Linked DNA regions of Homo sapiens. The gene in region 3 interacts genetically with the main gene of each other region. Each region holds a gene or a part of one and is shown on either strand. Other genes may lie near its edges. The genes, in order: NSMCE1, LIAS and UBA2.

Region 1 (3,652 bases), on a different chromosome or scaffold from region 3:
ACTTGTTGCCTTGTTTTGCTTTGTAGTTTTTACCATGTATGTGTGTATTTCTAATGAATGAATGTATGCTTTTGCTGAGTTTTCGATTTTATGTAATAGGATCCTAAAATATATTTTGTGTGACTTGCTTGTTGCACTTAACATTATCTTTCTGAGAAGTATGCGTGTTGATGTGAGGAGCTCTACTTTGTCTTCATTGCTGATTTGAATTCTATGGGATGATTATATTGTTTTAATGTAGTTCTTCAGTTGGTAGGCATTTATACTGTTGCCAGACTTTTGTTATTACAAGGTGCTTCTGTAAAAACATATCTCCTAGGGCAAATGTGGAAGTTTCTGTAAGGTATATACCTAATAGTAGATTTCGGGGGATATGCAAATTTGCTAGTAATATCAACTGTTATCTGAAATGGTTACAATAATTTATACTCAGCCTGGAGTGGTGGCTCACACCTGTAATCCCAGCACTTTGGGAGGCTGAGGTGGGTGGATCGCTTGAGTCCAGGAGTATGAGACCAGCTGGGGCAACAGGTGAGACCCCATCTCTACAAAAAATACAGAAATTAGCCGGGCATAGTGGTGTGTGCCTGTAGTCATAGCTGCTAGGGGGTTCTGAGGTCAGAGGATCGATTGAGCCCACAAGGTCAAGGCTGCAGTGAGCTATGACTGTGTCACTTCATTCCAGCCTGGGCAACAGAGTGAGACCCTGTCTCAAAAAAAAAAAAAAAAAAAAAAAAGGAAAAGAATTTATACTCTCCCAGCAGCAGATGAAAGTTTCAGCCTCAGCCATTCTTTTAAAATTTTTGCCTGTCTGGTGGTGGCTAAGACATTCCTTCACTGTGGTTTTCATAATCATTTGTCTGATAACATTGAGATTGAGCATCTTTTTTCTGTATTTATTCATCATTTATGCATCCTCTTTTTGTAAAATTTCTGTTGCCCATTTCTCTTTTACAGTTGTGTTTCCCATGCTGATTTGTAGGAATTCCTTATATAGTCTGAATATGAATCTTTTGTATTTTGTAGCTTATGTTTGTTTTAAATGCCCTCCAGTTTGTATCCCCTAACCCCCACCTTTCTGGTATTTTTGGTGAATAGAGGCCCTTAATTTTAACAAAAGTCAAGTTTATCAGTATATTCCTTTATGACCTGTACTTTTTATATCTCTTAAAGAAATCCTTCCCTACCCTTAGGTGATAAATATATTCTCTATATTGCCTAAAAGTCTTACAGTATTTTTCCTTATTATGACCTTATCCCTTCAGAATTGATGTTTGTATATAGTATGAGGTAAGAATCAAATTTTATTCATTTTTTTACATATGGATAACAAGTTTTCCTGGCACCTTTTATTGGAAAGTTTGCTTTCATCCGCCATCAAGTATCCATATATGTATACCTTTCCGTTTCTGAGTTCTCTGTTCTGTTCCATTGATTGGTCTTATTTGTCTATCTCTGTACCATTACCACACTGTACTCGTTACTCTAGCTTTATAAGAAGTGCTTTTTTTGTTTTGGTTTGTTTTTAGACAGGATCTTACTCTGTCATCCTGGCTGGAATGCAGTGGTGCAATCATGACTCACTGTAGCCTCGACATCCCGAGCTGAAGCAGTCCTCCCACCTCAGTATCATGAGTACCTGGGACTACAGGTGCATACCATCATGCCCAGCGATTTTTTTTTTAATTTTTGTTTTTAGTAGAGACAAGGTTTCACCACATTGCCCAGGCTGGTGTTGAACTCTTGGGCTCAAGCAATCTGCCCACGTCAGCCTCCCAAAGTGCTGGGATTACAGGCATGAGCCATCGCGCCCAGCAAATATGAGAAGTCTTTATAGCTGGTAGGACAAGTCCTTCTGCCTTTATTTTCTCCCAGGAATGTCTTTGCTGTTTTGCCTTTGTGTTTTCTATGTAAATTTTTAGAATCATCTTGTCAAATCACACACACACATACACAAAGCCTCTTGGGATGCTGACTGTAATAGCATTGATTCAATTGCATTGGGTCAATTTGGTTTTTAAAGTGATTGCTGCCAACATTTCATTTTTCAGTATGATGTTTGCTGCAGGTTTTTTGTAGACGTCACTTAGTAGATAAAAGATGTTTTCTTCGATTCCAAATTTGTTTTTGGTGTAGGTACATGTTGAATTTTATCAATTGTATATTCTGCATCATTAAGATGATCATATGCTTTTTTAAAAAAACTTAGGTTTGGCAGCACACGTGAAGGTTTATTAGATAGGTAAACTCACGTCATAGGGGTTTGTTGTACAGCTTTTTTAATCAGCCAAGAATTAAGTCCAGTACCCGATAGTTATATTTTCTGCTCTTCTTCCTCCTCCCACCCTCCATCCTCAAATAGACCCCAGTGTCTGTTGTTTCCTTCCTTGTGTTCATAAGTTTTCATCATTTAACTCCCACTTATAAGTGAGAACATGTGGTATTTGGTTTTCTATTCCTGTGTTAGCTTGCAGAGGATAATAGTCTCCAGTTTCATCCATGTTCCTGCAAAAGACATCATCTCATTCTTCTTTATGGCTGCATAGTGTTCCACGGTGTATAGGTACCACATTTTCTTTATCCAGTCTGTCATTGATGGGCATTTAGGTTGATTCCATGTCTTTGCTTCTGTGAATGGGGCTGCAGTGAACATTCCCGTGCATGTGTCTTTATGGTAGAATATTTCTGTTCCTCTGGTATATACCCAGGAATGGGGTTGCTGGGTCAAATGGTAGTTCTGCTTTTAGCTCTTTGAGGAATTGCCACACTGCTTTCTACAGTGGTTTAACTAATTTACACTCCCTCCAACAGTATATAAGTTTCCCTTTTCTCTGCAACCTTGCCAGCATCTGTTATTTTTTGACATTTTGATAATAGCCATTCTGACTGATGTGAGATGGTATCTCATTGTGGTTTTGATTTGCATTTCTCTAATGATCAGTGATACTGAGCTTTTTTTTCATATGCTTGTTGACCACATGTATGTCTTCTTTTTGAAAAATGTTGGTTCATGTCCTTTGCCCAGTTTTTAATGGGGTTGTTTGATTTTCTCTCGTAAATAGTTTGCAAATATTTTCTCCCATTCTGTAGGTTGTCTGTTTACTCTGTTGATAGTTTCTTTTGCTGTGCAGAAGCTCTTAAGTTTAATTAGATCTCATTTGTCAATTTCTGCTTTCATTGTGATTGCTTTTGGTGTCTTTGTCGTGAGATCTTTGCCCGTTCCTGTGTCCAGGATGGTATTGCCTAGGTTGTCTTCCAGGGATTTTATAGTTTTAGGTCTTACATTTAAGTCTTTAATCCATCTTGAATTGATTCCTGTATGTGCTGTAAGGAAGGGGTCCAGCCTCAGTCTTCACATATGGCTAGCCACTTATACTAGCACCATTTATTGAATAGGGAGTCTTTTTCCCATTGCTTCTTTTTGTCATCTTTGTCAAGGATCAGGTGGTCATAGGTGTATGGCCTTAATTTTGGGCTCTCTATTCTGTTCCATTGGTGTATGTGCCTGTTTCTGTACCAGCACCATGCTGTTTAGCCCTGTAGTGTAGTTTGAAGTCGGGTAACGTGATGCCTCCAGCTTTGTTCTTTTTGCTTAGGATTGCTTTCGCTATTCAGGCTCTGTTTTGGTTCCATGTGATTTTTTTTTTTTTTT
Region 2 (3,752 bases), on a different chromosome or scaffold from region 3:
CCAGTAATTGTAAGTGATTTAGTCTTCAAGCAGCACTGCTGGCAAGCTAAAAATACATGTGAAGGATAGAACCACTATCAGCTTCTAGAATGGTTAGAGTAATGTCCTTTGAAAGGAGTTTTTCTTTTGCTAAAGAAAAATTTCTAACATAAAAGGAAGTAAATTATGAACTTTCTGATGCTTTCTAAATTACCAGGAAAAGATCAGATTCTGGTATATGATGAGCATTAGACTAAAATGATGGATTAGGGTCTGATAAAGTTGGTGCTACTCCCACGACATTTGGAGGAGGTATGGAGCAGCATGGATTACTTGGCTGGGTTATGAGCCTTGGGATTTGCAGAGATTATATGTAGATAGACTCATCACAGTTCTACTCATATGTAAGATGACAAAGAGAAGTTAATCAGACTCCTCATAAAATCAGGCCTCTAGTGCTGCACTCTACCAATAAGCATTGAGTCATGCTGTAAGAGCAATAGACTAAATGGAACACTAATGGCCTAAAAAGAGAATGTGCCCTCTAAGCTGCTAACTTATTGCGTAGGCACAACTCAGGCGGTGGGGAGAAAGCCCATTACAAATGAAGAGCTCTTGCTTCCCTAGAGGGGAATAAGCTAAAGAGATTCCATCAGATGCGTCTGCTCAGCTGCAACGAGATCTGTTTTATAAACATCAGATCCAGCCTAATAATGTAGCAAAATTGCTCTTGGAAATGAATTTTGCCAAGAGCAATACTTTGACAGTGATGAGGGATAGATAGTGCACATAAAGTAGAATTAATGTGCAGACCCATATATACAGTAGGGTCACCCTTTGTAATATTGGCTTACTAGAAAGAATAATAGTAGGAGACTCTAGTCATTATTGCTGGGGAGAAAGGCCAAAGATAATAGGGGATATTTAGGTTAGAAAAATATTGCCATTGAGGTTTGAGAAGAGAGAAGTGCCAATAAATACAAAAGTCTTCTTTAAAGGGGGAACACCAAAAATATAATTCTGAAATAGTTGTCTCACTGTTATTTACTTTAAATTGATATTAATGTGTTTTCCTTTTTCCTAAATAGGTGAATTTTTCCTGAAAAATCTAGTGGCTAAAAGAAAAACAAAAGACCTCTAAAACTTCAACAAGACCTTCAAGATCACAGAAATTTTTAAAATTTGATTCCAGTTAATAACAGAGGTGGTGCCAGAATGCCTGGACTGCAGTGGATGTGCCCCACCTCTTTGCTTAAAAAAAAAAATGTCAATAGCCAGGCATAGTGGCTCACGCCTGTAATCCCAGCACTTTAGGAGGCCAAGGCGGGTGGATCACCTGAGGTCAGGAGTTCGAGACCAGCCTGGCCAACATGGTGAAATCCTGTCTCCACTAAAAACACAAAAATTAGTCAGGCGTGGTAGTGGGTGCCTGTAATCCCAGCTACTCGGGAGGCTAAGGCAGGAGAATCACTTGAACCTGGGAGGGGGAGGTTGCAGTGAGCCAAGATCGCTCCATTGCCCTCCAGCCTGGGTGACAAGAGCAAAACTCCATCTCAAATAAATAAAAAGGAAAAAAAAGTCAATAAACTGTACAAATTTAATTACAGTAATTCATTTGGCTTTTAGTGTATCTTCTTTGTCCCAATTAAACAGTTGCTTGCTGTGATGTAATCTTAAAATATCTTTGTAAGAATTTTCTTTTAACATAATTTTAAAATGCATTAAAAACATGGCATGGTGGCTCACACCTATAATCCCAACATTTTGGGAGGCCAGGGCGGGTGGATCACTTGAACCCAGGAGTTCGAGACCAGCCTGGGCAACATGATGAGACCTTATCTCTACAAAAAATTAGCCAGACGTGGTGGCACGCACCCGTAGTCCCAGCTACTCAGGCTGAGGTGAGAGGATCACTTGAACCTGGAAAGCAGAGGTTGCAATGAGCTGAGGTGGTGCCACTGCTCTCCAGCCTGGGCGCTACAACTGCTCTCCAGACTCTGTCTTGAAAAAAAAACCCAAAAACTTCCAGAAGATTTTCCAATCCACTGTTAACATCATTACATTTCATTTATGAAAAATAAAAACTTCATTTATGTTACTGTGATGAAACAGTCAACATAGATTGAAACTCATCAGTTTAGCATTTCATTCAACTTTAGCATTCATTCAACGTAGATTGAAACTCATCAGATTAGCATTTGTCCTTGTAATATTGGAATAATTTAGAAAGGCTTAAGAGTGAATGTTGGCCAGATGTGGTGGCTCATGCCTGTAATTCCAGCACTCTGAGAGGCCGAGGTGGGCAGATCACCTGAGGTCGGGAGTTTGAGAACAGCCTGGCCAACCTGGTGAAACTCCATTGCTACTAAAAATAAAAAAATTAGCTAGGTGTGTTGGCAGGTGCCTGTAATCCCAGCTACTTGGGAGGCTGAGGCACGAGAATTACTTGAGCCTGTGAAGCAGAGATTGCAGTGAGGCGATATCGTGCCACTGCACTCCAGCCCGGGCAACAGAGTGAGACTGTCTCAAAAAAAAAGTAAATGTTGATTTTTTACATTGGTGTGACTACTTCAGAACCTGCAAAATAGTTTTATGCTGATTACATTTAGTCCCTCTGAAAACACCAAGGCCATAATGCTGCCTAAGACATGGAAATAGAACCTAGAAATATTAACCCTTATTTGTATAGTAGCTTGCTAAATCCACATGCCCTATTCCTTTCATTTCTCACATTGGTTGTATTATATGATGGTAAAGGCCTGAGAAAGGAATTTCCTTCCAAAATACTAATAACTCAGATTCATCTTTTGACTGAATCCTGCCTTTCTACTTTTTCTGCATATCTAAAAGGACACTTTTAGGTGGCCATGTTGTAAAATATGTAAAGTGGATAGCCAATTCTGTTTTGAATTCTTATAACGAGCCAGTATTATAAAAGTAATGCACATCCTTGCCAGGTGTGGTGGCTCACGCCTGTAATCCCACCACCTTGGGAGGCTGAGGCGGGTGAATCAGTTGAGCTCAGGAGTTTGAGACTAGCCTGGGCAACACAGTCAGACCCCCATCTCTACCAAAAATACAAAAAATTAGCTGGGTGTGGTGGCACATGCTTGTAATCTCAGCTATTTGGGAGGCTGAGGCAGGAGAATCACTTGAACCTGACAGGCAGAGGTTGCAGTGAGCTGAGATCACATCACTGTACTCCAGCCTGGGTGACAGAGACCGTGTCTCAAAAAAAATTTTTTTAAGTAATGCATGGGCCGGGCATGGTGGCTTAATGCCTGTAATTCCAACGTTTTGGGAGGCCGAGGCAGGTGGATCACCTGAGGTCAGGAGTTTGAGACCAGCCTGAACAACATGGTGAAACACTGTCTCTACTAAAAATTAAAAAATTAGCCAAGTGTGGTGGCGCATGTCTGTAATCCCAGCTACTCAGGAGGCTGAGACAGGAGAATCCTTGAACCTGGGAGGCAGAGGTTGCAGTGAGCTGAGATCACACCATTGCACTCCAGCCTGGACAACGAGTGAAACTCCTCAAAAAAAAAAAAAAAAAAAAGTAATGTATGTCTTTATAGATGCTAGTAAATTTTGGGATGCAAATTTAACCCTACCAACTTTCTTTTGTTTTGAGACAGTCTCACTCTGTCAGGCTAGAGTGCAGTGGCGCGATCTCAACTCACTGCAACCTCTGCCTCCTGGGTTCAAGTGATCCTCCTGCGTCAGCCTCCCAAGTAGCTGGGATTACAGGCGCACACCATCACGCCCAGCTAATT
Region 3 (3,652 bases):
CGAAACCATGTTAATAGAATGTGCCTGGCAGCTGATGTTCCTCTTATTGAAAGTGGAACAGCTGGGTATCTTGGACAAGTAACTACTATCAAAAAGGTAAAGAAAAGTTTTATTTTTTTAACTTCCCAAATATTTATTTGAGACCTTGGAGCAGGAGGAAATAAACTTTGTATTTATATAAAATGAACAGGTGAACATCCAAAATGTAAGGACTTTTATGCTTATATAAAACTTAAAATGCGGGGCCAGGTGCAGTGGCTCATACCTGTAATCCCAGCACTTCGGGAGGCCGAGGTGGGCGGATCACCTGAGGTCAGGAGTTTGAGACCAGCCTGGCAAGCATGGTGAAACCCCATCTCTACTAAAAATACAAAAATTAGCTGGACATGGTGGCCGGCGCCTGTAATCCCAGCTACTTGGGAGGCTGAGCCAGGCGAATCACTTGAACCTGAGAGGCAGAGGTTGCAGTAAGCTGAGATTGCACCACTGCCCTCCAGCCTGGGCTACAGATCAAGCCTCTGTCTCAAAAAACAAACTTAAAATGCTATAAACGTGCTCAAAAGACTATGGGCAAGGAAATCTTTCAGCTCTGCCATTTTGTTTCATTTGACTTTTGTATTAAAATCCTTAGAGTGGTAAGCATGATATACCAGGCATCAAAAATTTCTTTGTGTCGGCTGCGTGCAGTGGCTCATGCCTGTAATCCCAGCACTTTGGGAGGCTGAGGTAGGCAGATGACTTGAGGTCAGGAGTTCGAGACCAGCCTCTCCAATGTAGTGAAACCACGTCTCTACAAAAAATACAAAAATTAGCTGGGTGTGGAGGCGTGTACCTGTAATCCCAGCTAGTTGGGAGACTGAAGCATGAGAATTGCTTGAACCTCGGAGGTGGAGGTTACAGTGAGCCAAGATGGCACCACACTCCAGCCTGGGCAACAGAGTGAGACTCCATCTCAAAAAAAAAAAGCCAGGCGTGATGGCTCATGCCTGTAATCCCAGCACTTTTTGGGAACCCGAAGCGAGCGGATCACCTGAGGTCAGGATTTTGAGACCAGCCTGTCCAACATGGTGAAACCCTGTCTCTACTAAAAATACAAAAATCAGCGGGCGTGGTGGTGTGCACCTGTAATCCCAGCTACTTGGGAGGCTGAGGCAGGAGAATCCCTTGAACCGGGGAAGCGGAGGTTGCGGTGAGCTGAGATCACGCCATTGCACTCCAGCCTGGGCAACGAGCGAAACTCTGTCTCAAAAAAAAAAAAACCAAAAAATTCTGTTGTCTAAGAGTCTGGGCTTATAATGTGGAAGGGAACTTTGAAAACTTTTTAGGGGTGTATTTGTGAAGTACTTCAAACATTTAAATACAACTAGAGAATAATAGAACAAAATACCTGTGTGCTCATACCTCAGTTTTGTTTTGGTTTATTTATTTATTTGTTTATTTTTTTGAGACAGAATTTCGCTCTTGTTGCCCAGGCTGCAGTGCAGTGGCGCGATCTCAGCTCGCCGCAACCTCCGTCTCCCTGGTTCAAGCGATTCTCCTGCCTCAGTCTCCCGAGTAGCTGGGATTACAGGCGTGCGCCACCACGCCTGGCTAATTTTGTATTTTTAGTAGAGACGGGGTTTCTCTATGTTGGTCAGGCTGGTCTTCAACTCCTGACCTCAGGTGATCCACCTGCCTCGGCCTCCCAAAGTGCTGGGATTATAGGTGTGAGCCGCCATGCCTGGCACATATCTCAGTTTTTAAAACCTCAACACGGCTTCATTTGCTATTCAGATATTTTTTCTTTCAGTTCTTTTAAGAAGTTAAATATTGTAGTTACATTTGAAGAGTCGTTTTCCATGTTTTGAAACTATAGAAAGAGAATTATAATGTACTTAACATTTGCTGGTTGCGTCTAATTTTTTTTGGCAGCTTATTCATGTTAGAAATTGTGTCTTTGTTTCTTTTAACTGTTAAATGTTATTCTTGGAACCTTATTGAATACCATTCTACAAAAGACTGTTGTGTATGTCAGTGCGTATTAAGTTGTTGAATAAGTGGAGGCCTTCAGTATCTGTTGACAGATCAAGACGGAAGTTCTCTGTCTGCATTGCAGTATGAGTCTCATGACTGCTTGCCATGTGGCTACCCTCAAGAAAGCATATTGGAAGGCTGAGGGCATCAGAAATGGTGTTTCAGAGAAAACTCTAAATCTGCTGCAATTTATATTAAAACAGTATTTGAGAGTTTTGATTCTTGAACAATTAGCCTGGCTAATTTTTGCATTTTTGGTAGAGATGAGGTTTTGCCATGTTAGCCAGGCTGGTCTCAAACTCCTGACCTCAGGTGATCCGCCTGCCTTGGCCTCCCAAAGTGCTGGGATTACAGGTATGAGCCACCACGCCCGGCCAGACATTGCTTTTTATATCCTTGTTACTGTGATTCTGACACACCACTGTGTATTAAGACTGAAGGTGGCTGGGCATGGTGGCTTACGCCTGTAATCCCAGCACTTTGGGAGGCCAAGGCGGGCGGATCACCTGAGGTAAGGAGTTCGAGACCAGCCTGGCCAACATGGTGAAACCCCATCTCTACTAAAAATACAAAATTTAGCTGGGTGTGGTGGCACGCACCTGTAATCCCAGCTACTTGGGAGGCTGAGGCAAAAGAATCACTTGAACCCGGGAGGCAGAGGTTGTGGTGAGCCTAGATCACGCCATTGCACTCCAACCTGGGCAACGAGCGAAATTCCGTCTCAGACAAAAAGAAAAAAAGAAGAGACTGAGGTTAGGAATATCTGAGATAATGAAAGATGATTCATTTGATAGTTTTGAAAAGTTGTCTCAGGTGTCATGTACTTCTTCCAAGGCATAAATTCCTTAAATTGTAATTTTAAACTTGAATGTGTATCAATAAAATGGGCTGGGCGCAGTGGCTCACGCCTGTAATCCCAGCACTTTTGGGAAGCCAAGGCGGGCGAATCACATGAAGTCAGGAGTTCAAGACCAAGCTGGCCAACATGGAAAAACCCCGTCTCTACTAAAAATATGAAAATTAGCTGGGAGTGGTGGGAGATGCCTGTAATCCCAGCTCTTTGGGAGCCTGAGGCAGGAGAATTGCTTGAACCTGGGAGGCGGAGATTGCAGCCAAGATTATGCCACTGTACTCCAGCCAGGGTGACAGAGCAAGACTCCGTCTCCCCACCGCCAAAAAGAAACGTATATCAATAAAATGAAGAGTATTTGGTTTAGTAACACCTAAGATTTTTCTGTGTAGGGAGATATATCTTGAAATTAATCTTGTAGTTTACTTAATTTCAGGAGATTATAAGGATATGGCTGTATTCCCCAGACCCACTTAGTTTTGCTCAAAAAAAAAAAAAAAACACATATAAGAAAATGGCTGCGAATAATATTTAGATAACATTTACAACTTTGAGAAATAATTTCTTGGAAAGCTGCTGTTTGTCTTTCCAGTAGTTTTTCTGTTTAGTGTGATCAAGGTAAACTCATATTTGACACTCAGGTGTAGTAATTTTTATTTGGGCTTGTAAGTCATGTTCACTGAACCAGGAGTCGGCGTCCTGGCACAGCCTTAGCTATGACTGGTAGATTCAGTTAGCTTTTGTGTTAGTTTATCATAAAGTAAGCATTTTGGAGTCACTAATATTTTA

What was found.
Region 1: changes in UBA2 (region 3) and NSMCE1 together harm fitness more than expected from each alone (negative genetic interaction), as found in Homo sapiens cells (one large-scale study listed by BioGRID).
Region 2: changes in UBA2 (region 3) and LIAS together harm fitness less than expected from each alone (positive genetic interaction), as found in Homo sapiens cells (one large-scale study listed by BioGRID).

The regions. Positions count from the first base shown.
Region 1 is NC_000016.10:27,262,247-27,265,898, reverse strand, and holds part of NSMCE1 (non-structural maintenance of chromosomes element 1 homolog), read left to right. Parts: intron 1-3,652. UniProt on the Homo sapiens protein: RING-type zinc finger-containing E3 ubiquitin ligase that assembles with melanoma antigen protein (MAGE) to catalyze the direct transfer of ubiquitin from E2 ubiquitin-conjugating enzyme to a specific substrate.
Region 2 is NC_000004.12:39,475,996-39,479,747, forward strand, and holds the end of LIAS (lipoyl synthase, mitochondrial isoform 1 precursor), read left to right. Parts: intron 1-1,067; coding exon 1,068-1,120; 3' UTR 1,121-3,511; downstream 3,512-3,752. UniProt on the Homo sapiens protein: Catalyzes the radical-mediated insertion of two sulfur atoms into the C-6 and C-8 positions of the octanoyl moiety bound to the lipoyl domains of lipoate-dependent enzymes, thereby converting the octanoylated domains into lipoylated derivatives.
Region 3 is NC_000019.10:34,434,873-34,438,524, forward strand, and holds part of UBA2 (SUMO-activating enzyme subunit 2), read left to right. Parts: coding exon 1-96; intron 97-3,652. UniProt on the Homo sapiens protein: The heterodimer acts as an E1 ligase for SUMO1, SUMO2, SUMO3, and probably SUMO4. It mediates ATP-dependent activation of SUMO proteins followed by formation of a thioester bond between a SUMO protein and a conserved active site cysteine residue on UBA2/SAE2.